6 separate regions of the Homo sapiens genome follow, and regions 1, 2, 3, 4 and 6 are each linked to region 5. Evidence: fine-mapped expression QTL. A gene starts in region 5. Each other region holds a variant in brackets. All regions are shown on one strand. Distances are between the middles of the regions. Region 1 overlaps ERO1B (endoplasmic reticulum oxidoreductase 1 beta). Region 2 holds the start of ERO1B (endoplasmic reticulum oxidoreductase 1 beta). Region 3 has its middle 37 kb from the start of GPR137B. Region 4 overlaps NID1 (nidogen 1). Region 5 holds the start of GPR137B (G protein-coupled receptor 137B). Region 6 overlaps GPR137B (G protein-coupled receptor 137B).

Region 1 (4,088 bases), 76 kb after region 5:
TTTATTTTCTTAGTTGTGAAAAAATTAGTTAAGAACCTTAAAAAGAACTTTTTACTCTAACCAGATCTTTTAATTTCCTAGAACATACTCTAATATACTAGTTTTCCTAAGCTTGAAACAAATCACAGTACAGAAAAAAACAATAAATGGACATGAGCGAGGATTTTCTCCAGTAAACAGTTTAAATAATAGCCTTTAACTGAGGGAGTGGTGAAATAACACTATCAAAAAGTTCTTTACATTTAGAGTGATAAACAAAGTGCAGATTTTTCACATCTTAAACTCTGAGTGAATACTAAGAATAATTCTTACTAATTTACTAGTTAAATTAATTGGATAGTCACTTTTTAGACAGTTTGCCTTAAGGCCCCCCTCCCCCACCATACAATACTTGCAACCCTCAAGAAAAAGTAGAGGAGGCTCCAATCAAGTCAGCCTTTTAAACAACTTAACAAAAAATACTACCACCATCAACAACAAAACCCCAAGTTTATAAAGGTTTGAAATTAGGTGAGAAAATAAATAACTCTGAGACCTTAATACCCCCACCACATCCCACCAAGAGATGGCTAAGTATTTTTAAGAGGGGTGAGCCAAGCCAACTAAATACAATTTTTTAGATGTCACCAAATCATCAATGAACACATTTCAGACTTTGACAGGATAAAATATGGATTTAAGAGCACTTATTCTTTAATTCAGAAAAGACTAAAGAGTCTAAGGAAAAACTCTAGATCTTGTACCTGCATTACTTCTACACAGATGCAATCTTCCAAATTGTATCTGCTGACATTTAAAAAAAATCAAGATTTTAAATATTGTCTAAAGATTTTAAATCCCAGATTTAGAAAATGACAGTTTAGGACTGTTGGTATGAATCACAGAAAGTCCTCTGTTGGTATGAATCACAGAAAGTACCGTTTATATACAGTGAAAAGAAAAGGTGAGGGGAGAGTAAGCTTAAAGGAGGGTTGACCTAATCTACCTTTTTATATATCCTGTCAGGGAAAAGCACACTGAGTTCGAGGATTGCATAGATTGTATTCTAAAATAAATCCTTTAAAAATGCTTACTTTAAGTGAAAATAGCAAATTTTGTGTATATAATATTTTCAATTGGCATTATAAATTCATATAATCCCATTTAAATTTTATCAAGAAGTAATCTGTTAAATATTTCTGCAGTGTTTTCTTTCTAAAAGTAACTGACAATTTCCAAAATGTCTTTGTCCCTAAAATTTCTAGGGGCAGAGAAAAGCAAAATCAAAAGGAGTTCTAAGTAAAAGAACACTCTTGGGCCAGCCCATTACACACACAAAATCTGGCTGGGTAGCATAGGGGAGAGGTCTTGTTCACCTTTACCAAAGGAGGTCCTTTAGACTGGAAACAGCAACAATTACAGCAACTAAAAACTGCAAATAAAAACCAATGAAATTGAAGTCCTGGGGAATCTTCAGGAATTTCTGTAACTATGCATTGAAAGGGCCATTCATCATGGTGACAGTTCCAGATTCTAGAAATATTATAGTATTTCTTTATATTATAGAAAGTGACACACACACAGTGAGGCAAGGGTAAAAACACATTAAAAAGCATTGATAAATTTTTCTCACTGACACCAGCCCTGAGCAACATTTGTTCCCTAGTTCTCCTTTTCCATAACAGACTGAACAGTGTTATTAGAATGCAGACATAGCCATTTAAAGTTTGACAACTGGAAATAAAGGATAATAGAATAAAAACAAAACCAATTCTAAAAAAAATAGAATTTTCATTACATGAAAACATATGAAATTAAACACAAAATTAGTATAACTTACATGTTTTAAAAGTATATACTTCATTTATAAATATCTCTAGTTGATAATAATCTATTAAGAATCATAAATATTCAAGTGAGCATTTAAATTTTCTATTTAATAGTTCAGAATTCTTGAAGTCAGATTAGTGTCTTTCTGATGAATGTCCATAATTAAAAGGCTTTCCACAGTCACTTTATGTCTCTAGTTAGACACATAAAAGCCTTTATTACCTACTGTGTTGTAATAAGACTTTAAAATTCTGTAAGTCTCTTATACTTGTAGAAAGCCTATGGAAGAAAGAAAAAGCTTATTAGTAAGGCTAACATGTTGCATACTGTTTCAAATTATTGATATTGTTACATAAGCTATAATTTGAAAGCAAAACCTAAAATAAAAAACCTCAAACACTGAAGCTTCCATGTTTAAATTAGTGTTCTCATTAAGACTGGTTTAGAAGGGGCAAAGGAAGCCTGTTACTTCATACTATCTACAGACATTAGATTAATAATGGGAACAGTGATATGAATAATTCTTAATAAAGAATCTCAAATCATTTACAATTGGTCTAATAAATTTATTTTGCACATTCCTCTTCAAATGATTGCTCTTTACTCAATGTTCCCCAAACACACTAATTTGTCTTATGTTGTTAGCTCCCTAAGGGTAAAGACTCTATTTCATCTCCTGCTGAGTCTCTCTCCTGTGCCCCATACCCATTGATGCTTATAG[T/C]ATTCAGTAAATGATTACTGACTGACTAAATGAAGTGCTTCTCAGCCCAGGCCAAAAAGTAAAACTCTGGGATGGGAAATATAAAAAAGTAATTCTAAAAGCTCAAGTATCCCTATGTACAATTCAGGGGTGATAGAAGAAAAATCTTTAACTATTTGATAGAAGAAAAATTATTCCTTAATCACTTAGGAGGACAGGCAATGTTCTAAGCCCATCACATATATGATCTCATTATCAGGAAACAAACTAGGAAAGCAGTGATTTGCCTGAGTTCATACCACTACTAAAGGGCAGGCCAGGATTCCAGAACTTTAGGACCCCTGATTCTGAGTCCATTACTCTAGGGAACAATAAAAGGTAATAAGCTCTAGATATAGAACTAAAACAAGAAAGGCTGCATTTGTGAATATTTTTTATGAGATCGAAGGAAATTTTCAATTGTTTTGAAATTCTCAATTGTTTTCATCTTTCTCAATTTAATTTGGACTTAAGAGATGCTTAAGTTATTTACAATATTTTTCATTTCAATTTATTTAAATTTCATTCAGTATCTCCTGTGTTATCTTTCTACAGGCCTCATAAGTGGATGGACTGAATTTTTTATGAAATACCAGTTAATGGATAGTCTATATCTATCCTGTGTCTGAAATCTCAACCTACATAGTCATCTTTAAATACAGGGAAGCAACAGCTGAAATCCTTGTTATTAAGATGGGAAATGGCCAGGTACAGTGGCTCATGCCTGTAATCCCAGCACTTTGGGAGGCCAAGACAGGAGAATCACTTGAAGCCAGGTGTTTGAGACCAGACTGGACAACAAAGTGAGACCCCCATCTCTACAAAAAAAATTTTTTAATTAGCCAGGCAAAATAGCATGTGTCCGTAGTCCCAGCTACTTGGGAAGCTCAAGTGGAAGGAACGCCTGACCCCAGGATTTGGATGCTGCAGTGAGCCATGATTGTGCCACTGCATTCCAGCCTGGATGACAGAGCGAGACCCTCATCTCTTTTAAAAAAAAAAAAAAAAAAAAAAAAAGCAGGGGACATATAATAAATCTGTTTTTAATTTAACTGCTTCTTTTTAACTTAAAACACATGTTAAGAAAACCAAGAAATAATCTTTGTATTACTTAGTCCCCTATTTTTTTTTTTTTAATTCTTCCTCAAGTTGACTTTTTTCTCTTTTTCCCCAAGGAAGCATAGTATTATTTTCTGTGATTCTTTTCCTTCTGTTCTGTATTCCTCAGTTGGCATTACATGTATCTCTGCTGGCAAATTCAAATTATTTTTTAAACCACTGGTGATATAAACAAGCAAGCAAATTATATGTCTCTATACAGAAGTAAATCATGTAGAAATGAGTGAAAGAAAAATGACCTCTGAGCTTCAGAAATAAAGAGCATAGTGCAGGAAAAAGGTGAGAAAAGAAAAAAATAGTAATGAAAATTTAAGAAAAATAAGGAGCAGATGAAGGTTTTAATTTTCTTTTATCACCTTCTCAATCACACATTCCTTACTCCTGCTATTGTAGTTGAACAAGTTATAGCCAAGCAAAAAGA
Region 2 (4,088 bases), 140 kb after region 5:
TGTAATCCCAGCACTTTGGGAGGCCAAGGCGGGTGGATTACCTATGGTCAGGAGTTCGAGACCAGCCTGGCCAACATGGTGAAACCTCATCTCTACTAAAAAATACAAAATTAGCCGTGTGTGGTGGCACACACCTATAGTCCCAGTTACTCGGGAGGCTGAGACAGAAGAATCACTTGAACCCAGGAGGTGGAGGCTGCACTGAGCCAAGATGGCGCCACCGCACTCCAGTCTGGGTGACACAGAGCGAGACTCCATCTCAAAAAAAAAAAAAAAACAGCACAGTAGAAAGTACTGCTGGCGGCCTGGGCGCGGTGGCTCACGCCTGTAATCCCAGCACTTTGGGAGGCCGAGGCAGGCGGATCACCTTAGGTCAGGAGTTCAAGACCAGCTCGGCCAACATGGCAAAACCCTGTCTACTGGGAAAAAAAAAAAAAACACACACACAAAAATTAGCCAGGCGCGGTGGCAAGCACCTGTAATCCCAGCTACTTGGGAAGCTGAGGCAGACAGAATTGCTTGAACCTGTGAGGCAGAGGTTGCAGTGAGCCAACACATGCCATTGCATCCAGCCTGGCCAACAGAGTGAGACACTATCTCAAAAAAAAAAAAAAAAAGAAAGTAAGTACTGCTGGCAACAAAAACCAAATATATTCACTTGGAAGACTGTTTGGCACAATGCTACTTCAAATATTCACAAATCTTTAACTGTTGGACTATATTTATATTCATTTGGATATAATGAAATTAAAAGTACAGGGGCAGGCCAGGTACAGTGGCTCACACCTGTAATCCCAGCACCTGGGAAGCCAAAGTAAGAGGCTCGCTGGAGGCCAGGAGTTGAAGATCAGCCTAATAACATAGTCCCCATCTCTACACAAGAATTTTAAAAATACAGGTGAAATTATAAAACATTAATTACACATAATTAGTGGTAAATGAAAAAAATTTAAAATGAAGTTTCTAGACAGATAAGCATAAATTAATATGTGCTATATAAAAAGAGAAAATGGGAACTCTCATTTCAGAAAAATATCGAATTGTAAATTTCACTCAGAAACACTCAACTAGTGACTAGAAAATAATTTTGCCAAAGACAATTTGGAAAATTTACTTTAGTAAGTCTGCCCAGATTACCACTATCTATTCCATCTCAGTGTTTTCCAAGTGAGGTCCAAGAGGTAGTCAAAAGATAACTTTGCTACAGTTATACTGTACTTGCAATGTTTGTTTAAAATGCTGATATCTGGGCCATATTCCAGATCCAATCAATACATGTGGAGGTAGGGCCAGAGAATCTGCATTTTAACATGTTCCCCAATACCAAAAATTTGCCCCTTTTATTTTTATGGTTCAAACACAGACACAAACGGACTATTCAGGCACTCTGGGATTTAGTGCAGGGCACCATAAAACCATGAAATAAAGTGACTCAATTCAGAAAAACATGTTTTCACGGTTACACTCAGAGTCACCTTCAATTTTTCTTGGATGAGCACTAATTGCTTCAAATGACATCTCCCCTCATCATCAGGCCACCTGAGACCTTCGTTTTATTTTTTTGGCCCTCAGCAGTGCTGCCTCCTTGCAGCAGGTGCAGACAACAAGCAGCAGCACCTGGCAATCAATTCAAATTCTACTGAATAGAAGCAAACACCTCTCTGAAGGCGAAAGGATCTGGTCAGCTAAGCCTCAGATTTCTAGCACACTGAGAACACTTGTAATCATCGCTTCACATCAACAACCAGCCAGCACCTCACGACTGCCAGAGCCAGAGCCTCCATCCACGAGCCACAACGCCCCACTCAGACCCCCCCAGTCTCGTATTGGGACTTACCTGGCGATGCCACTTGGCAGACACAGCTCAGCTGGGTAAAAATAAAGCAATCTTGAGCAAGGGAAGGTGCTCGAGGAAGAGTAAAAGCCCAGAAAGCTCTAGTCCGACAGTTCGAGTGAAGTCTTGCCCCCTCCCAATCCCCTGCGCCTGGCGGGGCCTCGGGGGTCTGCGGAGTGCCCCCAACTCTCAGTCTCCCTCCCTCACTAACTCCTGAAGGGAAGGACGTCACCGTTTCTCTGGGCGCTCGCTCCCTTCGCAAGACAGCCGAGGTGGTTCATGCCCGTCCCATCTCCCGCCACACTCCCAGCCGCTTAACACATCCGAGAGGAAAAAACGAAAACAGCTCAGGGGGACCGTCACCATCTTCCTCTTTTGACTGCCATTACCCGGAGTGTCGCCGTCCCCCCACCCTGCGGGCGGTTCGCAGATGTTTCCCGCACTGGACGGTCAGGTCTCTGCTCCCCGGGTTTTCTGCTCGCCAGAAATCACCTCTTTTCT[G/GGCCCGGCCCT]GCCCGGCCCTGCCCGGCCCTCCCCGCGTCACAGCCGCGGCCCGTGTGTAGCGGCCGCGGGTGTTCGGCCGGGGGTTCCCGGCCCGCTATCACTCGGGCTTACCTGCGCCTCGACGACGCTCCGCAGGAAGCTCAGGGTGACCAGCAGCTGCACCGCGGCCGCTACCCCCTGCCCAGCGCCTGCCCGGCGGACCCCTTGGCTCATGCTGACCTCTACCCACACCGCGGCCAGCCGGACCCCTCGGGGCCGGGGAACGACGGGCGGCCCAGGCGACGACCCAAGGGGACGGTTCCCAGCGGCCGAGCGACTCCAGGGTCAGAGGTCTGCACTCCAGTCCGGAGGCAGGCGACTCTTTCCCCAACACCCGGCAGCTGCGAGTGAGGCAGGAAAGGCGAGCGCCCCCACTTCATCCCCCAGGCGGCCCCGCCCCCGGCTCGCTTGGCTCCTCGGCCACGCCCCCAAGCGCGGGGCCTTGTGGGAGTTGTGGTCCTGGGCGGTCGCCTAGGCGCCGCGGCAGGAAGGCGGAGCCGCTGAACGAGAGGACTCGGGAACTACAACTGCGAAGGCCGCCCCGCCTCCCCGAGGCCTCGGGCTCCGCGGCGGCCAATGAGGCGGGACCACGCGGGCCTCCAAAACACCGGGGGGTGCGGGCGGGGGAAGCGGGGCGACCTCTTCTCCGGGAAACCAGGCTGAGGACCTCTCTGCGTCGGTCCCTGCTGTCGCTCCTGGAGTCCTCGCAGACGCCAGGCTCTAGGATTCACCCAGTACGCGGGCGAGTTAGGAACGGACGGTGCGGGATCTTTGACTTTCGGTCTGAAGCGTATTCTTTGTCTCATTCATTTTTCTGTAGCCTCACATCTGCTGTGGGTGCCTATGTAAGCTACCTGTGACTTGTAGAGATGGCTTCGGCTCTTTTTTAATTTCATGCACCCTAGATGTGGATGTCATCTCCTGCCCCGCCCCAGCCCGACTCCTAGGTTGACACGTGCGAGTATAACGCATGCTAAAGAATGAAGACAAACCCAAAGGCTTATGATGAAATATGGGGATGGGGTAAAACAAAAAAAAACTTAGAGTGACATAGATTGGGCGCAGATCCCAACTCTAAAACATTCTAGCTAGTTATTGGGCCTTAATTCCCACCTCATATCTTGTTCTAGGGCTACATAAGATTAGATACAGAAAGAGCTGAGTATAGTGCCTAGCACCTAGGAAGCACTCAATAAATGGTAACTGCTATTAGTTTTATTAATGCCTTTGATTTCTACAAAACGAGTAATACATCTCCCTTGTGTTTATGTAGCGTGTATTAGTTTCTCATTGATGCTGTAAGAAACTATCACACATTTAGTTGCATACAACAAAAGAAATTCATTACCTTATAGTACTGGAGATCAGGTGTCCAAAATGGACCTGTAGGGCTGTGTTCCTTTTGGAGGCTCTCAGGGACAATGTGTTTCCTTACCTTTTCCAGCTTCCAGAGGCCACCTGCATTCCTTACCTCATGACTTCACATCTCCTTCACTCTCTCTGCTTCCCTCGTCACATGCCTTCTCTTGTGACCCTAACTCTTCTGTCTCTCTTGTATAAGGACCCTTGTGATTACATTGGTTACAGACCATCCTATCTCAAAATCCTCAACTTGATCACATCTGCACAGTCCCTTTTGCCATATAGGATAACATATTCACAGGTTCCAGAGATTAGGATGAGGATTTATAAATAGAGGGTCATTAATCAGCCTACCACATA
Region 3 (4,088 bases), 37 kb before region 5:
CGCTAAGCAGGGGCTCGGCGGTGACTGCAGCTGGTGCATCTTTTCTTGTTTCCGTTTTGCTGTGGTCACTTGATTTTAGAAGTTGCTGGAGGTACCTGTCCACCCCCTCCTCAGACAAGGGGCTGGGTTGGTTTGCAGGTAGAATCACTTTCCCTTTTCTCTGGACTTGATTTTCAGGCCAGTGGACTTGCGCAGCCTTTGTTTTGGCTGTTGTCCCTTCTCTAGTCCTTGCTATGTTGCTGAATATTAGCACAGTATTTGTAAGGGAGGGTGGGTTGGAGTAGAATGAAAATTCAACCATTTTTGCCTGACAGCAGATTTGATAGAAGTTTTAGTAGAGGAGAAGTTAGAATTTAACTCATGATTCATTAAATATATGTTTTCTATATTTCTTCTTATAAGAGATTTTCGACATCAATCATGTATCAAAGAACAGAATATACATACAATTTCCATTTTGTCAGTTTTATCCAATTCATCCACATCATGCAGAAACAGAAGTTTCCAGTAGATGGCGCCAAAGTCTGTCTTTTCTCCGCCTCCCTGCGCGCTCTTCGTTGTTTCAAGATCCGCACATCAACCAACCCTCCAGAAAATGACATTTCTTTATCAGCGCAGACCAGCACGAGGTGCTCTCCACAGCAGAAAATCCCAGTAAGATGTCTGGCAAGAAAAATAGCCCCAAGAGTTGTAGCCCTGGGCAGTAAAACCAGAAGCCAGGAATCCTGGTTTCCAAACAGTTGATGGGTTTTGTGCCAGTTCAGTTTTGAAGCAACGGCCCTGCGGTACTGAGGGTCAGAGCCGTCTCCCATCTGCTCCCTCTCTTCCTCCCACTGGCCCCCATGGAAGCAGCTGCCCAAGCTTCTTGAGAAGGTGAGTGCCGGAACTCCAGGACAGGAAGAAGACTCTAAGCTTGGTCTTAAAAGACCACAAAGCGGCCTGGCGCGGTGGCTCACGCCTGTAATTCCAACACTTTGGGAGGCCGAGGCGGGCTGATCACGAGGTCAGGAGATCGAGATCGTCCTGGCTAACACGGTGAAACCTCGTCTCTACTAAAAATACAAAAAATTAGCCGGGCGTGGTTGCAGGCGCCTGTAGTCCCAGCTACTCGGGAGGCTGAGGCAGGAGAATGGCCTGAACCCGGGAGGTGGAGCTTGCAGTGAGCTTGCTGGATCACTCCAGCCTGGGCGACAGAGCGAGCCTCCATCTCAAAAACAAACAAACAAAAAACACCACAAAGCATGAGATCCAACAGCCTGGGCAACATGGCGAGGCCTTGTCTCTAGAACAAAATTTTAAATTAAAAAAATTAGCCAGACATAGTGGTGTGCTTGAGCCGTAGAGGTCAAAGCTGCAGTGAGCTGTGATTATGCCACTGCATTCCAGCCTGGGCAATAGAGTAAGACCCTGTCTCAACAAACAAACAAACAAAAAGCCAAACAAACAAAACCCCACGAGATCCTAAGGTTCCCATGGCCTTTCTTCTTGCACTGGGCCCATGACTCTGCCTCAGGCTGTGACCGGGACATGAATGGAGAGGAAGGAAAGGGAAATGGTAAAGGGGGCAGGATTGTCTCCAAGTACTTCCCCAGGTCCAGGGGAAGAGGGCTGGCAGGTGAGGAAACCAGAGAATGGGAAACCCAGGCTGAACCCTGATGTTGAGCCCGAACGCTGATGCACTGCCGTCTGTGTGCATAGCACAGTGAAAACTGCAAAGAGATGTGGTTCCTGGCCTCCAGGAATTAACGATCAGGTGGAAAGAAAGTTCATTCCACCCAGGGATGCGTTGGAGCCAGCTAGCACCTTTGAGCTGATTGTGCACGTCTCTACACAATGACACCATGACGTTGTGTCAGTAGTTTCAAATCCGCCATGTGGCAGTATTCACACCAGAGAAATCAGCGAACTCCACAAATCAGGGCTCCCTCCACTCCCCCAGAGCTGAACTTTAAACATTTACCTGCATGCTGGTGACTCTGCCTCACTATAGCACAAACTGCTTAAATAAAGGTGGGGCGGGACATTTGGTCACAGTCGGGAAGCAGTTGAAAGTGTCATGGGTTTGAGTCTAAGGTCAAGCTCTTCCGCTGATTGACTATCTGACCCTGATTATCTCCACCTCAGCCTCTGCCTCTCTTTAATGAGACTGATGCTATCTACCCTAGTTAGTTACAGAGTGGCTGGGAGGCTTAAATGAGATCGGTCTGTGTGGATACTATGTAAATTATAATGGATTTTATCAAGGTAATAGATGCAGCTTTAAAACATTCATAAAATTATGAGAATGAGGCCTACCAAATCCCAGTTTCATAAGGATACATATGATAATGCATATTTGTTTGATTTCCCATTTATTTAATAACACTTATTGACACTACCCATATGCTAGACGCTGCTAGTTGGGCAGTCT[TAAGAG/T]AAGATGTAAAAACACTTTGTAGATTACAAAGCTTTTTTTTTTTTTTTTTTTTTTTTTGAGATGGAGTCTCACTCTGTCGCCCAGGCTGGAATGCAGAGGCGTGATCTTGGCTCACTGCAACCTCTGTCTCCAGGGTTCAAGTGATTCTCCTGCCTCAGCCTCCCAAGTAGCTGGGACTACAGGCATGCATCACCACACCCAGCTAATTTTTGTAGTTTTAGTAGAGATGGGGTTTCGCCGTGTTGGCCAGGCTGGTCTCCAACTCCTGACCTCAAATGATCCGCCTGCCTGGGCCTCGCAAAGTGCTGGGATTACAGGTGTGAGCCACTGCACCCGGCTGATTACAAAGTTGTTTTTTTTTTTTGGTTTTTTTTTTTTGAGATGGAGTCTTGCTCTGTCACCCAGGCTGGGTGGAGTGCACTGGCGCAATCTCGGCTCACTGCAAGCTCCGCCTCCTGGGTTCATGCCATTCTCCTGCGTCAGCCTCCCGAGTAGCTAGCTGGGACTACGGGCGCCCACCACCACGCCCGGCTAATTTTTTTTGCATTTTTAGTAGAGACGGGGTTTCACCGTGGTCTCGATCTCCTGACCTCGTGACCCGCCCGCCTCGGCCTCCCATACAAAGCTTTTATACAAGTCTTTTGTAAAGTAGAAGGCATCATGCAAGGAAAAATGTTGTTTTTCTCAGCTTTCTTCATCTTTTCCAATCTGGACACACATTTTCACTGCAACTAATATTATACCGATACTTTCATTAGACTAAAATACCTGGCAGCGGTCACAGACAATGGTGTGGAAAGGAAACCAAGACAAGAAAACATCCTTGCAATATTTGGCTGAGGCAGGAGAATGGCGTGAACCCGGGGGGCGGAGCCTGCAGTGACCCGAGATGGCGCTACTGCACTCCAGCCTGGGCGACAGAGCGAGACTCCATCTCAAAAAAAAAAAAAAAGGCCATAATAAAATTTATACAAAATTATTTCTATGTATGCCTATATGAATAGGGAAGAATATACATAAAGATATTCACAGTGGCTATCTCTAGGTGGTAAGATTATTTTAATTAGCCTTTCTTGCTCATATGTAATTTTTATTTTCTCTACAAAAATTGGCTACGAAATTTTGGAGATAAAAACTGAGAAGTAAAAGATCTTCATGCAGCTATTTATTTTGTAGAATTACAAATATGGATATGAAAGGAGCCTTACAGGTCATCTGGTTTCATAAGATGGGGAAACTGAGGCTGAGGGAGATGGGAAGGAAATAACTGAGGACTTTGAGTTTTCTCTGAATTTGCATTCTCTTTTTTCTCTCCAAATGTGTGTGCGGAGCTTTTGATAATTAATCTAAACCTGTATACTCTACAATGAGATTCTCATCTTTCATTATCTTTCTGACTTTTTGATGTATCTGCTTCCTCTGGTATGGTCATTTGTCTTTGCCTTGTTTCTAATTTTTTTTTTTTTTTTTAACATTCAACTGACTGCTTGGTTTCTCTTTTCTTTGAAAGACTCTTGATGTAAATAAGCCCTTTATCCCTATCTGGCCTCTTTAATTATATCTTCTCACGTTTGCTTTCTGCTCTCTACCGACTAATTTCTCAGAAATTTGCAAGGGTGAATCACAATGCCTCCAAGCCATGATTCCCAGAATCAGAAAATTGCTTTTTAAA
Region 4 (4,088 bases), 160 kb before region 5:
GGAGGCAGTGGAAGATCTTAAGATAGGGAATGGAAAAATAGTTCTATCTTGTTCATTAGCTATCGGGGATAAAGGTCATTGAAATAATACTTTCAAGAAACCATAGCTGCTATTACTTTCATACAAGTATAAGGGGTACAAAGAAGGGGTGTCAGTGATTACAAATAACACCCCAGTCTTTACTGGGTTATAGCAACTGATTTTCAAGCCAGGAGTTGCCACTGGGTAACATGAACCTTCACTGCAAACCCTCAGCACCCATCTAACTTTACTGGAAGCTGAAGATTACATTGGTGTTTTATTATATAGTTTTTTTAAATTAATAATAACGATTGTGTTTTATTGATATCACTTAGGACTCTTTCCCTTCTACTGATTAAAGGAATGAAGGTCATTTAGTATGACTGGAGTATAAGCAGGAAGGAGAAGGGGCTACCCTACCTGAGGGATCTGGGGTATGAGGCAACCATTCCAATACTGTGGGTTTTTTTGTTTTGTTTTGTTTTTGACAGAGTCTCATTCTGTTGCTCAGGCTGGAGTGCAGTGGTGCCATCTCAGCTCACTGCAAACCTCCACCTCCTGAGTTCAAATGATTCTTTTGCCTCAGCCTCCCGAGTAGCTGGGATTACAGGTGCGTGCCACCATGCCCGGCTAATTTTTGTATTTTTAGTAGAGACAGGGTTTCACCATGTTGGCCAGGCTGGTCTCAAACTCCTGACCTCAAGTGATCCCCCGCCTTGGCCTCCCAAAGTGTTGGGATTACAGGCATGAGCCACCACACCTGGCTCCAATACTGTGTTCTTCTGTGGACATACAAGCAGTGCAGACCCTCAGCCCCCTTTGCATTAGCCTTCGCCAGAGCCCTAATATGATGGTGACCTTGGATGCTGGACACATCAGAGCCCCCAGAAAGAAAGCCCGCCAGAGGAAGTTTATTGAGAATTAGAAACCCCACTTGAACAAGATCTTTATTATCTAAACACAAAGTAGAGATTTTTAAAATATTAAAATATTTCCCATGTCCCTAGATGAACAGGGACAGTGAGACTGACCTCCAAAGGTCCCTTCTGGCTTTCAGATAGAAACAGAATAAGTCATTCTGGAGTATATTTGGAATGAGCACATCCTGTGTGAGAGACAAGAGCCACTCAGATATACGCAAATAAAACAGAGAATATAGGCTGCTCTGTGAGAGCATCTTTGCGAGGCACCTGGAGGAAGCTCCATGAGCTCCGTGCATATTGTCTCCTTAGAACCAGCCTTGGTCCCGATCTCAAACCCAAGAGCAACCAACCCCCTCTCCCTCAACTCAAAATACTTCTTTATGAGCTACTCTTCCAAGGGAAAGGTCTGGATAATCTTATCCTTCAATGTGCAGTCCGAGGAAGAAGTATTCCTTACTGCTTACCTCAAAGATATGATACTTTTTAGAGATACTTGGTTGGGTCTGTAACTCAAGGAAAGAAAGAAAGCCTGGGATCCGGGCTGTTATGAAATAAGGAAGAAATGAAAATGATACCTAACTGTCACTCTCACTCACTAGGGAAGCACCAACCTGTACCATGCTAAGGAGATAACTGGAAGCTTCTTTCTCTCTTAAAAAAAAAAAAAAGAAAATTATTCCCAGTGATCTTTCTTCTACAAAGATCACATTTTGGTTTAATTCTGTGTTTTCACAGTAACTAGGCTTTTGCTTGGAATGCTTCTTACTGTGCTTACAGCGTTCTTGGATGGTTATGAGCTCCAAAAGCAACAGGAAATAGCAAACAATGACCTATTCCCCTCTTCCACTGGGTTTTAAAATGAAATCATAGATAATAACAATAACATTTTTAACACACGGAGATAGGCATTTTCAAACTGTTTTTCACTAAACCAAAGCATGAAAACTGGAAGACATGATTTAAATAGCCTGTTGGCTTCCAGAAAAGGGTTCAGGGTCTATGTCCAAAGCCAGACATAGTTAATTCAAC[C/T]TCAGCTTCATTCCTGCCGCATCATCTTTACTGAAGGCAACAAAGAAGGGAAAAAATGCTTCGGGAGTTGTTCCACAGGCACAGGAAATCTTCTAGAATATCAATTGTGAGGGAAACATTCCATTGAAAATAGAAAAAACTACATTCAGTGCCAAGTAAAAAGAAATACAAAATGAGGCTGCTCTATTTTAAAGATGTATCTTTGATGTGAATATTTTGCAGAGAACGCAAGGTGACTCCACAGAACAAATATCATCAGCATGACAATGCCATAGGAGCAAAAATATTCCCAAGTCAGTTGATGAGTCGCTGAATTAAGCAACATGTAATACTTGACCATTTCAGCACAGTGGAATTTTTAGAGGCCTTTGGATTTTTGTTGTAATGGTCTTTCAACTAGATAAATCATACCCATGTAAAACAGTCTTGATTTGTTGAAGGTAGGCATGAAAAACAAAGCACAGAGTCATTGGTTGAAATTGGCATCCTTAATGAGGAATTTCCTCAATTGAGGAATTGAGGTTGAACACTGAAAAGTAGATTGTGCCTGCCGGGCGCCGTGGCTCACACCTGTAATCCCAGCACTTTGGGAGGCCGAGGTGGGCGGATCACGAGGTCAGGAGATAGAGACCATTCTGGCTAACACGGTGAAACCCTGTCTCTACTAAAAAAAAATACAAAAAATTAGCCAGGCATGGTGGCGGGCGACTTTAGTCCCAGCTACTCGAGAGGCTGAGGCAGGAGAATGGCGTGAACCCAGGAGGCAGAGCTTGCAGTGAGCCAAGATCACGCCACTGCACTCCAGCCTGGGTGACAGAGTGAGACTCTGTCTCAAAAAAAAAAAGAAAAAAAAAAGTAGAACGTGCCTAAACTTTACACACTTTATCGTAGTAATGCAACAAAAGACTGAGAAATGTTTGTGAAAGTTTGGCTTCATTTGCTGTTCTTCTCTGGCATACATGGCCACTTTGGCTGCTAGAAGCAAAACCAAAAAGGAAAAATGATATTTGCTTACTTACCTTGTCTAATGATGGTGGTTGGCTCTCCACCATGTAGACTAGCTCTCCCAATGGAAGGCTCAGTGATGTCCGTCCAGTAAACCATCTTGTCCACGCAGTCAAAGGCCAGTCCAATGATGACTTTAGCCTGGATGTGAAGACCAGTGGTTAGAATGGTCCATCTACAAGCATCTGATAGTGAGAATCTTTTTGCGTGCCTACAGGCATTTGGATATCTTTTGTAATGAAGTGTCAAGTGTTTTGTTCATTTAAAAATTTTTATTATTGAGTTGTAGGAGTTGTTCGTATATTTCAGAAAAAACTCCTGTCATATACACATATATGCACATCTATATGTATAGGAATTTGTGTGTGTGTGTGTGTGTGTGTGTGTGTGTATATATATGCATAAATATGTATTTTTTGAGACAGGGTCTCTGTTGCCCAGGCTGGAGTGTAGTGGCGTGATTACTGCTCACTGCAGCCTCAACCTCCTGAACTCGAGTGATCCTCGCCCTCAGACTCTCAAGTAGCTGGGACTACAGGCATGTGCCACCATGCCTAGCTCATTTCTTAAAATTTTTTGTGGCAACAGAGTCTCACTGTCTTGCCCACTCTGGTCTTAAACTCCTGGCTCAAGCAAGCCATCTGACTCAGCCTCCCAAAGTGCTGGGATTACCAGCACCAGCCACTGCACCCACCCATTATTTCTTCTCAGTATGTAGTTTGCTCTTTCATTTTCTTAATAGTGTTTGGAAGAGCAAAAGTTTTTGATGTTTAGTAAGTCTAATTTATTATTTTTTCCCTTTATGGCTAATGCTTTTTGAATACTAAGAAATCTTTGCCTACTTGAAGGTGATAAAGAAAAAGAAATAAAAGGCATACATATTGAAGAAGTAAAATTACTCTATTCTAAGATAATATGGTTATTTATGTAGAAAGTCATGGGGAATCTATAAAACTGCTATAATCAAAAGTGAATCTAGCAAGGATGCAAGATACAAAGTCAATATAAAATTATTTTTCTATATACTAGCAAAATATAGAAAATAAACCTTAATAATTGTGACAGCATCAAAAAAAAAAACCAGAAAATATATAAGGATAAACATTTTTA
Region 5 (4,088 bases):
TGGCTTTCAGCTGTGTACAATGCCACGTGGACTAAAACTACGTTTCCCAATCTCTTGTAGCCAGCTTGCTAGGGTAATTAAGTCCTAGCAATGAGCTAAAAGTGGATGCATTATGTGGTCTTTCTGGGAAGGCTCCAGAAACAGGAGAAAACAAGTGCTCTTTAGTCTTCCCCTGTTCCTCCTAACGCTGGCCTGGGATGTGGACTCAATGTCTGGAGAGCCAGTAGCCCTCCTGGATCATGAGGTAGAATCCATGCACACTGGAGGGAGAAATATCAGAGTCTGGACCTCTGTTGACAAACAATATTCCTTCAGTGTAATAAAATGTATACGGATGCTTTTCCAATGTGCCAGGGGAGAGACTGGTAAACAAGCCTAGTTTCTATCATAAGGACACATAAATAAGTGTGTTGCGGGGGAAACTAACAATCAGGCAAGGATATTAGGGAAGCACACAGGTGAAACACCTAGCCTAATCCTGAGAGTTTGGTGGGTGGAGAGTTCTGGAGAGGCTCTCTGCAGGAAGTTACACCCTCATGGATAGCTAGGAAGGACCAGCTGTTGGAGGAAAGGGCAGAATTTTCTTAGTCTAGGGGAGTCAGGAGGTGTTAACACTGCTTAACACCTTGGAAGAGATAAGGCAGGGAGGTAAGCTAGGGTAGGAGTTTAGACTCTAACCCCAGAACTATGAGGAGCAAGGGAAGGGCATTTAAGCACGGGAGTAAAGTGGCCAGGTGTTCTTTAGAGCGATCATTCCATCATTCCACTTGCGCTGTTCAGAACGGGGATTGAGGGGAACGAGATCAGAGGCGTGGAGCCCAATTCCGTATTTCCTCTTGAAATAGCGATAGGGAGAGAGGGAAAGGATAGAAAAACTGGAAAAGGAGCTCCACGCCAAAGGCACACTTGGCCCCAGTGAACCACCTGGAATACGCTGGGAGCGCTGTAACCACTAAGTAATTCTGAGCAAAAGCTAGGGTGGATTCTGGATATGCCAGGCCGTCTTTTGGAAAAAGAACACACAATTAGGCACGAAGTGGAGTAAGAAAAGAAATCACAATTACTGGAGCCTCGGAAATCCGAGTTTCTTCTGTTTACCAGAACCGCTTGCCCAGCAATGTTTCCAGAGGGCGCCCGGCTTTCCCTCTTTTCCCAGAGCACTCCCCAGCTCTCCCAAGACAAGGGTGGCGTGGTGCCCCGGGGCAAAGACTAAGTCGCTGTACAGCCTCGAGGAGCGAGCTGCTCAGCAAAAGCAAAAGAGAAGGGCTCTCGGGTGGCGGGGACAGACCCTCCTTCGGCATGGGTTGGATCGGACAAGGGGGGCCGTGTGCCGTCAGCTGCCCCACTTCTCTCTGAAGCCCAGTGGGCTCCATCCACTGACCCGCGGCCCGCGCGCCTCCCGGCACCGGCTACATCGCTGGGAGGTGAGGCGCTGGGAGCGCGTGAGGCTCTCCGGGAGAAAACAGCCCAGCTTGCATCCCAGAGGAGGCAGCAGCCGCAGGCACCGTCTATTTCCTCACTCAGTATACAAATTTGACCTCAAAAATACGAACCCTGTCTTTGGCATGTCTGCATTTAGAAATAAACATCATTCCAGACGCCGGCCAGTTCATAGCCACAGAGTCGTAAAGTTTTATTTTTAAAGGGGGGGACGGAAAGGACTTGTAAAGTTTTTTTTTTAAATTTGTTTTTAAATAAAGGAATTAACTTCTGCAAAACAAGCAATCAGCAGCAGAATGCGCGAGGCCACGAGTGCGATCCCCCGAGGCGCGGGGCGCGGCTGGGAAGTTTTGGGGGCGCGCGGCGCGGTGCCGGGACCGGGGAGGAGGCGCGCGGTTCTGGGGGCGCGCAGTGCGGGAGCGCGCGGCCCCGGGGATGGGGAAGGGGCCGGGGACGGGTAGCGCGCGGCCCCTGGGATGGGGAGGGGGCGGGAAGGGGGGAAGAGACGCGGGGCTCTGGGGGCCCGCAGTCTGGGAGCGCGCGGCCCCGGGGATGGGGAGGGGGCCGGGAGGAGGCGTGCGGCTCTGGGGGCGCGCACTGCGGGAGCGCGCGGTGGCGAGGATAGGGCGGGCCGGGGTTCGCGGGGCGAAGGCGCGCGGTGCCCGGGGGAGGGCGGGCCGGGGCGCGCGGGCCGGGGCGGGGGCGCGCGGGCCGGGGCGGGGGCGCGCGGGGCCGGTCGGCGCGCGGGGGCGGCGGGCGCGGCGCTGCCAATCGCAGACAAAGGCCGTCCCAGTGAATCATGTGGTGCCGGGGGAGGAAGTGCGGCTTGTTTTCTTTCCTCCAGTCTCGGGGCTGCAGGCTGAGCGCGATGCGCGGAGACCCCCGCGGGGGCGGCGGCGGCCGTGAGCCCCGATGAGGCCCGAGCGTCCCCGGCCGCGCGGCAGCGCCCCCGGCCCGATGGAGACCCCGCCGTGGGACCCAGCCCGCAACGACTCGCTGCCGCCCACGCTGACCCCGGCCGTGCCCCCCTACGTGAAGCTTGGCCTCACCGTCGTCTACACCGTGTTCTACGCGCTGCTCTTCGTGTTCATCTACGTGCAGCTCTGGCTGGTGCTGCGTTACCGCCACAAGCGGCTCAGCTACCAGAGCGTCTTCCTCTTTCTCTGCCTCTTCTGGGCCTCCCTGCGGACCGTCCTCTTCTCCTTCTACTTCAAAGACTTCGTGGCGGCCAATTCGCTCAGCCCCTTCGTCTTCTGGCTGCTCTACTGCTTCCCTGTGTGCCTGCAGTTTTTCACCCTCACGCTGATGAACTTGTACTTCACGCAGGTGAGTTTCAGAGAGGCTCCTGGAGGCGCTCACCTGGCGGGGTGGTCCCCGCGGGGCGCCCGAGGCAGGGGCGATGGCAGCCGCGGGGGCGGGTCCGGCCCTAGGGCTGAGAGTGTAGGGAGAAGGCGCCGGCTCTGGGGTCGTCCGAACCCTGTCCTGTTTGCGGGCATTTGTCATAGGAAACCCCCTGCCATTCCCAAAAGGGGCAAGGAGAAGGCAGGGGAGGGCTGGAGGCCGCCGCTCACTCGCTGCCCCTGGCTCCGCATCGTGCGGTGGATTCGGGGCGCTTCTCCGTGCGCAGCGCGAAGCAGCAGCGCCTGCACACGCCAGTTAGTACGGATGGAAGGTGTGCCCCCAAGGGAGGCCTGAACTCTAGAATTTGCCCTGCCTCCCCAGGCACCTAACTCCCGGCCTGGAAAGGTCTTCTGCACGTTGGCCTCCAGATTTGGGCCTGACACTGCTGTTTTGAGCGTTGGCAGGGTGAGACCATGTTGGTTTTGATGAGATGTTTTGAACCTCCGGCTTAGGAGCTCTACAGAACTGCGGCTTACTAACTCATTCCACCGGATTGCTAAACAGCAGGCTGGGGTAACACCCAGCTCCGAGCTGCTGCCGCTCATCAGAGTTACTGTCTGAGCTCATCTGAGAGGCCCCAAGAAAAGGCCATAAAAGCTGACTGGGGCTCTTTTACAGCCACACAAAAATCACTTTATGGGGCATATTATTAAATAAGCTAATGGGAGAGTATGTGAATTAACTTGGCTGCTGCTTTACTGCTGATGGTTGACTTAATGAAAGTGCAGTAATTGTTGAGCACTTTGCAAATACTTTGTATAGCGTTGCACAAAGGTTTAATAACGCGGTGCCGCCGTCATCATCGTCATCATCATCTCTGATTCCCATTAGCTTTCCAAGCACTAAGATGTCCATTTTCACTAGGACTCTGCCGAAGGGGAAGGCGTCAACGGTGTCACCTGGTGAGGGTAATTTCAGAACTGTCGGATGGGCAGAAACCCTGTGCAAGCAGGCATCTCATTCCTTTTAAGTGTCTTTTTTTTTTTTTTTGAGAAAAAGTCACTTATTTAAAAAAAGAAAGAGGCCGTATGCGGTGGCGCATGCCTGTCATCCCAGCATTGTGGAGGCGGAGGCGGGAGGATCGCTTGTGTCCCTGAGTTTGAGACCGGCCTGGGCAACATGGCGAAACTTCCTCTCTACAAAATGTACAAAAATTAGCTGGGTGTGGTAGTGCCCGCCTGTAGTTCCAGCTACTCAGGAGGCTGAGGTGGGAGGCGGAGCCCGGGAGGCGGAGGTTGCAGTGAGCA
Region 6 (4,076 bases), 66 kb after region 5:
AAATACAGCACTTGTCTATGGAATCACTCAATGGAACATGATATCTTTAATCACATGTTCTAAAGCTAGAGAGTAAATGCAGTAGTATTTATTTATTAGAATAAATTATACATTATAAAGGACCAAGTTTTCAAATTTGAATGATGTCAGTTCTTAATTTAAAATTTCATTTACATGAAGGGTATTTATTTGGTCTCAATTTTCATGAATACTTATTTAATAAATACTTCTATAGCATCTACTCTGTATCAGACACTGTTCTAAGAGATTCACAAATATCAACTCATTTAGTCTTAACAGTCCTGAGAGGTCAGTACTATTATTAGCCTCATAATACAGATGAAACTGAGGTATCTAGAGGGTAGGTAACTTGTCCAAGGTCACACAGCTAGCAAGTGATCAGGCTACAATTCTAACTCAGGCAGTTTTGTTCAAATTTGTTTTCTGAATCACCATACTATGTAAACAGTTTGTATATAAGTACCCTGTCTCTTAGTCTCACCTACGCTTATGTTATACTTTCACGTGAGTTTTAATAGCAGGAGTCTCCTTCCTTGAATCTACATGCGGATCTGGCCCAGAAAATGTGGAAAGGGCAGTTAAATACTGAGAGTTCAAAGCAGCATACATAGAGGGTGTAAGACAATACATGAACTACCAGTCCGCTGCCATCGCCTAATCTTCAGTGAATTGGGAAGGCAAATAAAAAGAGGGAAGCACCTGAAATTGCAACCATAGCAGAGATCCACCCCAGGATTCCAAGTTTTGCTTACCTCAGCATGGGCATGGTCTGCAAACAGGAAGGGTAGTTGCTATTGGGATTCCCTTCCCTTTTCCTCAGCCTGCTGTGCTCAGCCATACTCCACTACCCGATGACTATCATGTTTCCCCTTTCAGCCTGTGGCTCTGAGACGGTGAGGCCAGCAGGGGTGAGAGGAGCCAAAAGGGCTGACATAGTGCCTGCCAAGCCTGTCTTCTCTCTGCTTGTCCTCTCAGGACCCCCATCCTGTTCCTGGGAAAGGGGAGCTTCTTAGAAAGTGAAAGGTTATCTTATGTAATCTTTTGTAAGATTAAAGACTTAGCATTAACAACTTTACAACTTTTTTCCCTCTGGGATGAAATGATAAAAAATATATGCTTGCCTTTTTACTCCTTGTTAGTAACAGTGAAAGTCTTTAGAAAACTTTTTAAGAGAGCTCTGAAAAGAGTCCTTGTTTTAGGGACAGAAGTACTGAAGAAAAGCTGGGAGAATACATGCTTTCTCAGTGATCGGGGAGCAGAGAAATCCTGGTCAGATAGGATAAAAGATTGTCGCTGAGAAAAAAGAAGAAAGCTGCCCAATGCGCTGAGCCAGCAGATGTAAAGAACGTAAGCTGGAAGCAAGCCAACAAACAAGAAGGACTTCTTGAAGTCAAAAGCTGTCCTTTGGGTCACTCAGATTCTGAGCTCCACCTCTTCCTTAAAACTGTTCTTTTCCAGTTACCCCACTGCATCTCCTATTAGTTGCTTTCCCCTTTAAACCCATATTCTGCTAGAGCTGTCCCACCCTCTCACCTGCCAGAAATGACTTAGAGCTGAGGGAGTCCTCACTACCGATATGGTGAAGACAAGACCCCCTTTCTACTACATAGAGGAACATAATTATAATGAAAACGACTTACGTGTATTGAGAATTAACTATATATTAGACACTGTTCTAAGCACTTTACAGATGTTAACTCAGTCCCCACAATAGGCCCACGACGTAGTTACTAATATTACTCCCATTCTAAGATGAGGAAATTGAGGCATAGAAGTTACTTGTCCAAAGACACCACCACAGGTTGTGAGCTGTACTCCATGTTAGGATTCAGATGCAGTTTGTTGCTGAAAACATTTCCTATGCATAGTGACTGGCTGGGTTCTCTAGTCATGCTGTATACTCTGTGCTCTAAAGAGTTCAGTAGAGTTGTCGGTGGGCATTTCAGCCCTGTGTGTAGCATGGTTTTGTGGGAAAATGGACTTTAAGAGCCATTTAAAAGAACTTTAGAGTTATCTATAGTTTACACAAAAATCTCAGCTCTGTCTACCTAAACTAGACTATGTCATACATACTATATAATGTTTCAAGTCACTGAAATATTTTTTTCTTTTTAAGTTTTGCTCCAGATTACTATGATTGGG[G/T]ACAACAAACTAACAGCTTCCTGGCACAAGCAGGAACTTTGCAAGACTCAACTTTGGATCCTGACAAACCAAGCCTTGGGTAGCATCAGTTAACAGTTTTATGGACGATTCCTCAGATGAAAAGCTTCAGAAAAGCATAGTGACAGCTGAATTTTTAGGGCACTTTTCCTTAAGAAATAGAACTTGATTTTTATTTGTTACAGGTTTCCAATGGCCCCATAGGAATAAGCAATAATGTAGACTGATAAACCCTTATTTTAGTACTAAAGAGGGAGCCTTGCTATTTCAGTGGGTATAATTTAAACTTTTTAAAGAAAATCTGTACTTTTATAAAGATGTATTTTGTATAACTTAAATAATAATGCTAAAGTATACTAGGGTTTTTTTTTCTTGAGAATGTTACTGCAATCATGTTGTAGTTTGCACAGACTTTTATGCATAATTCACTTTAAAAATATAGAATATATGGTCTAATAGTTTTTTAAAGCTTTTGGACTAAAGTATTCCACAAATCTTACCTCTTTAGGTCACTGATGGTCACTCCGATTCTGAGTGCCACATTGGTAGACTCCTAAAATACAGTTGACAACTTAGCCAATTGCAACTCCAGTGTTGATAATTAAAATGAAATGGTAAAGCAGCAGACTGTAAGGTCTTTAGAGATTTTTTTTTTAAGGTTCAGGCCGTAGGTTCCTCAAGGAATCTCTTAAGTTTTGCCCAAAGACTGGTACTTCCTTTCAGTAGGGCGCTAATGTATACACATTAATGATAAGTTGATAACATTAAAAATGTAGCTGACTTATCCTATTAAACCTCCTCTGCTATGTTCACAGATTCTGCATAGTTTTTTTTCAGCCTAATGAAATCTAATATGCATTACCTCAGGGCCACATCAAGAATACACCCCTTTCCGAACTCACTGAATGTTCATTACATTCAAGGAGAAAATAAGAGGGTCCATAAAGGGCATTAATAACAAATACCCCAAGCCGTTGAGCTAAGACTATGTGGAATCCTAATAGTTTTTTCCGTAATCTCCAACTATATTTAAAATAATGCCCTTCTAAATAGCTCTGTAAAGAGCCTATTGGAAGCTGCACATTTAAAAATGGCAATAGCACTGCAATATGCTGTAGCATGATGCCTGTCAGCCATGTTCCAGACAATTCCTTGTAAGTCATCTTTCATTTAAGTAAAAAACAGGTTATGAAGTACTGCCTCCCAGACCGGAAGTGCCATTCTAAAAACTCCACTATATATATCCTGGAGCCATAAAACTGCCTATTGGGAGGCTAAATGCTCTGCTTTTCTATAAAACAGAGATAAGGTTCTAGAGGAAGTACTGTTACCAGAAACAAGGCACGTTTCTTCTCTGCCTAGGAATGCTCATCTGGGGACAGAGGGAAGGTTCAATGAAAAGGAACTTATATTAACAAGTCCTACTACATGATGCAACCCATTTCAAATGACTCCTCTCATTTTGATCTTCAGGAATAACTGATCTCTGGGCATTGATTTCACAGATGAAGTCTACTATTGTTTTGGTAGTATTTAAAATTGGGATCTCAAGTTTCAAATTGATCATCATTGGGCTTTTCATGTGTATAGAACACCTTCACTCTGCATAATCCTACATAACAACATTCTTGTCTTCTAGTACATGAAAAAATTGGGGTAACATAGCATTTAAAGTAGTTATCAGGGAAAAGTCTATACTGAAGTGAACCCTACACTGTTATTCAAGTTGCCTTAACACATTATAAGCTATTATTCTAAATAGCTTTAACAGATTATTGTGGTCACACTGTATTACTAATAGTTAATTTAAAGGCAGACTCAGCATGTTTTAAACTCCTTTAAGTTACATCTTCAGAAAGTCCTGAAGTCCTTCAGTATTAGGTCAGCTAAGGGAA

What was found. PIP is the estimated chance that this variant, and not a neighbour inherited with it, causes the effect.
Region 1: its variant is fine-mapped to the expression of GPR137B in whole blood (INTERVAL, PIP 0.92).
Region 2: its variant is fine-mapped to the expression of GPR137B in whole blood (INTERVAL, PIP above 0.99).
Region 3: its variant is fine-mapped to the expression of GPR137B in whole blood (TOPMed, PIP above 0.99).
Region 4: its variant is fine-mapped to the expression of GPR137B in whole blood (TOPMed, PIP above 0.99).
Region 6: its variant is fine-mapped to the expression of GPR137B in whole blood (TOPMed, PIP above 0.99).

Annotation. Positions count from the first base shown.
Region 1 is chr1:236,216,489-236,220,576 of GRCh38, forward strand. ERO1B (endoplasmic reticulum oxidoreductase 1 beta) reads right to left here. Exons shown (of 16, transcript NM_019891.4): 16 at 1-2,088. The coding sequence ends at 2,028. Among named protein-coding and RNA genes, the nearest start is that of ERO1B, 63 kb to the right of the region's middle. The variant T/C (reference allele first, on the strand shown) is at 2,531.
Region 2 is chr1:236,279,244-236,283,331 of GRCh38, forward strand. ERO1B (endoplasmic reticulum oxidoreductase 1 beta) reads right to left here and starts at 2,715. Exons shown (of 16, transcript NM_019891.4): 1 at 2,439-2,715. The coding sequence starts at 2,540. RefSeq lists an enhancer at 2,110-2,309 and silencers at 2,380-2,429, 2,470-3,059. The variant G/GGCCCGGCCCT (reference allele first, on the strand shown) is at 2,336.
Region 3 is chr1:236,103,301-236,107,388 of GRCh38, forward strand. No RefSeq gene overlaps it. Among named protein-coding and RNA genes, the nearest start is that of GPR137B, 37 kb to the right of the region's middle. The variant TAAGAG/T (reference allele first, on the strand shown) is at 2,411.
Region 4 is chr1:235,982,387-235,986,474 of GRCh38, forward strand. NID1 (nidogen 1) reads right to left here. Exons shown (of 20, transcript NM_002508.3): 15 at 2,993-3,119. Among named protein-coding and RNA genes, the nearest start is that of LINC02768, 12 kb to the left of the region's middle. The variant C/T (reference allele first, on the strand shown) is at 1,974.
Region 5 is chr1:236,140,271-236,144,358 of GRCh38, forward strand. It overlaps GPR137B (G protein-coupled receptor 137B), which reads left to right and starts at 2,269. Exons shown (of 7, transcript NM_003272.4): 1 at 2,269-2,766. The coding sequence starts at 2,353. RefSeq lists silencers at 2,008-2,187, 2,258-2,527 and an enhancer at 2,493-2,996.
Region 6 is chr1:236,205,913-236,209,988 of GRCh38, forward strand. GPR137B (G protein-coupled receptor 137B) reads left to right here. Exons shown (of 7, transcript NM_003272.4): 7 at 2,138-2,995. The coding sequence ends at 2,246. Among named protein-coding and RNA genes, the nearest start is that of GPR137B, 65 kb to the left of the region's middle. The variant G/T (reference allele first, on the strand shown) is at 2,164.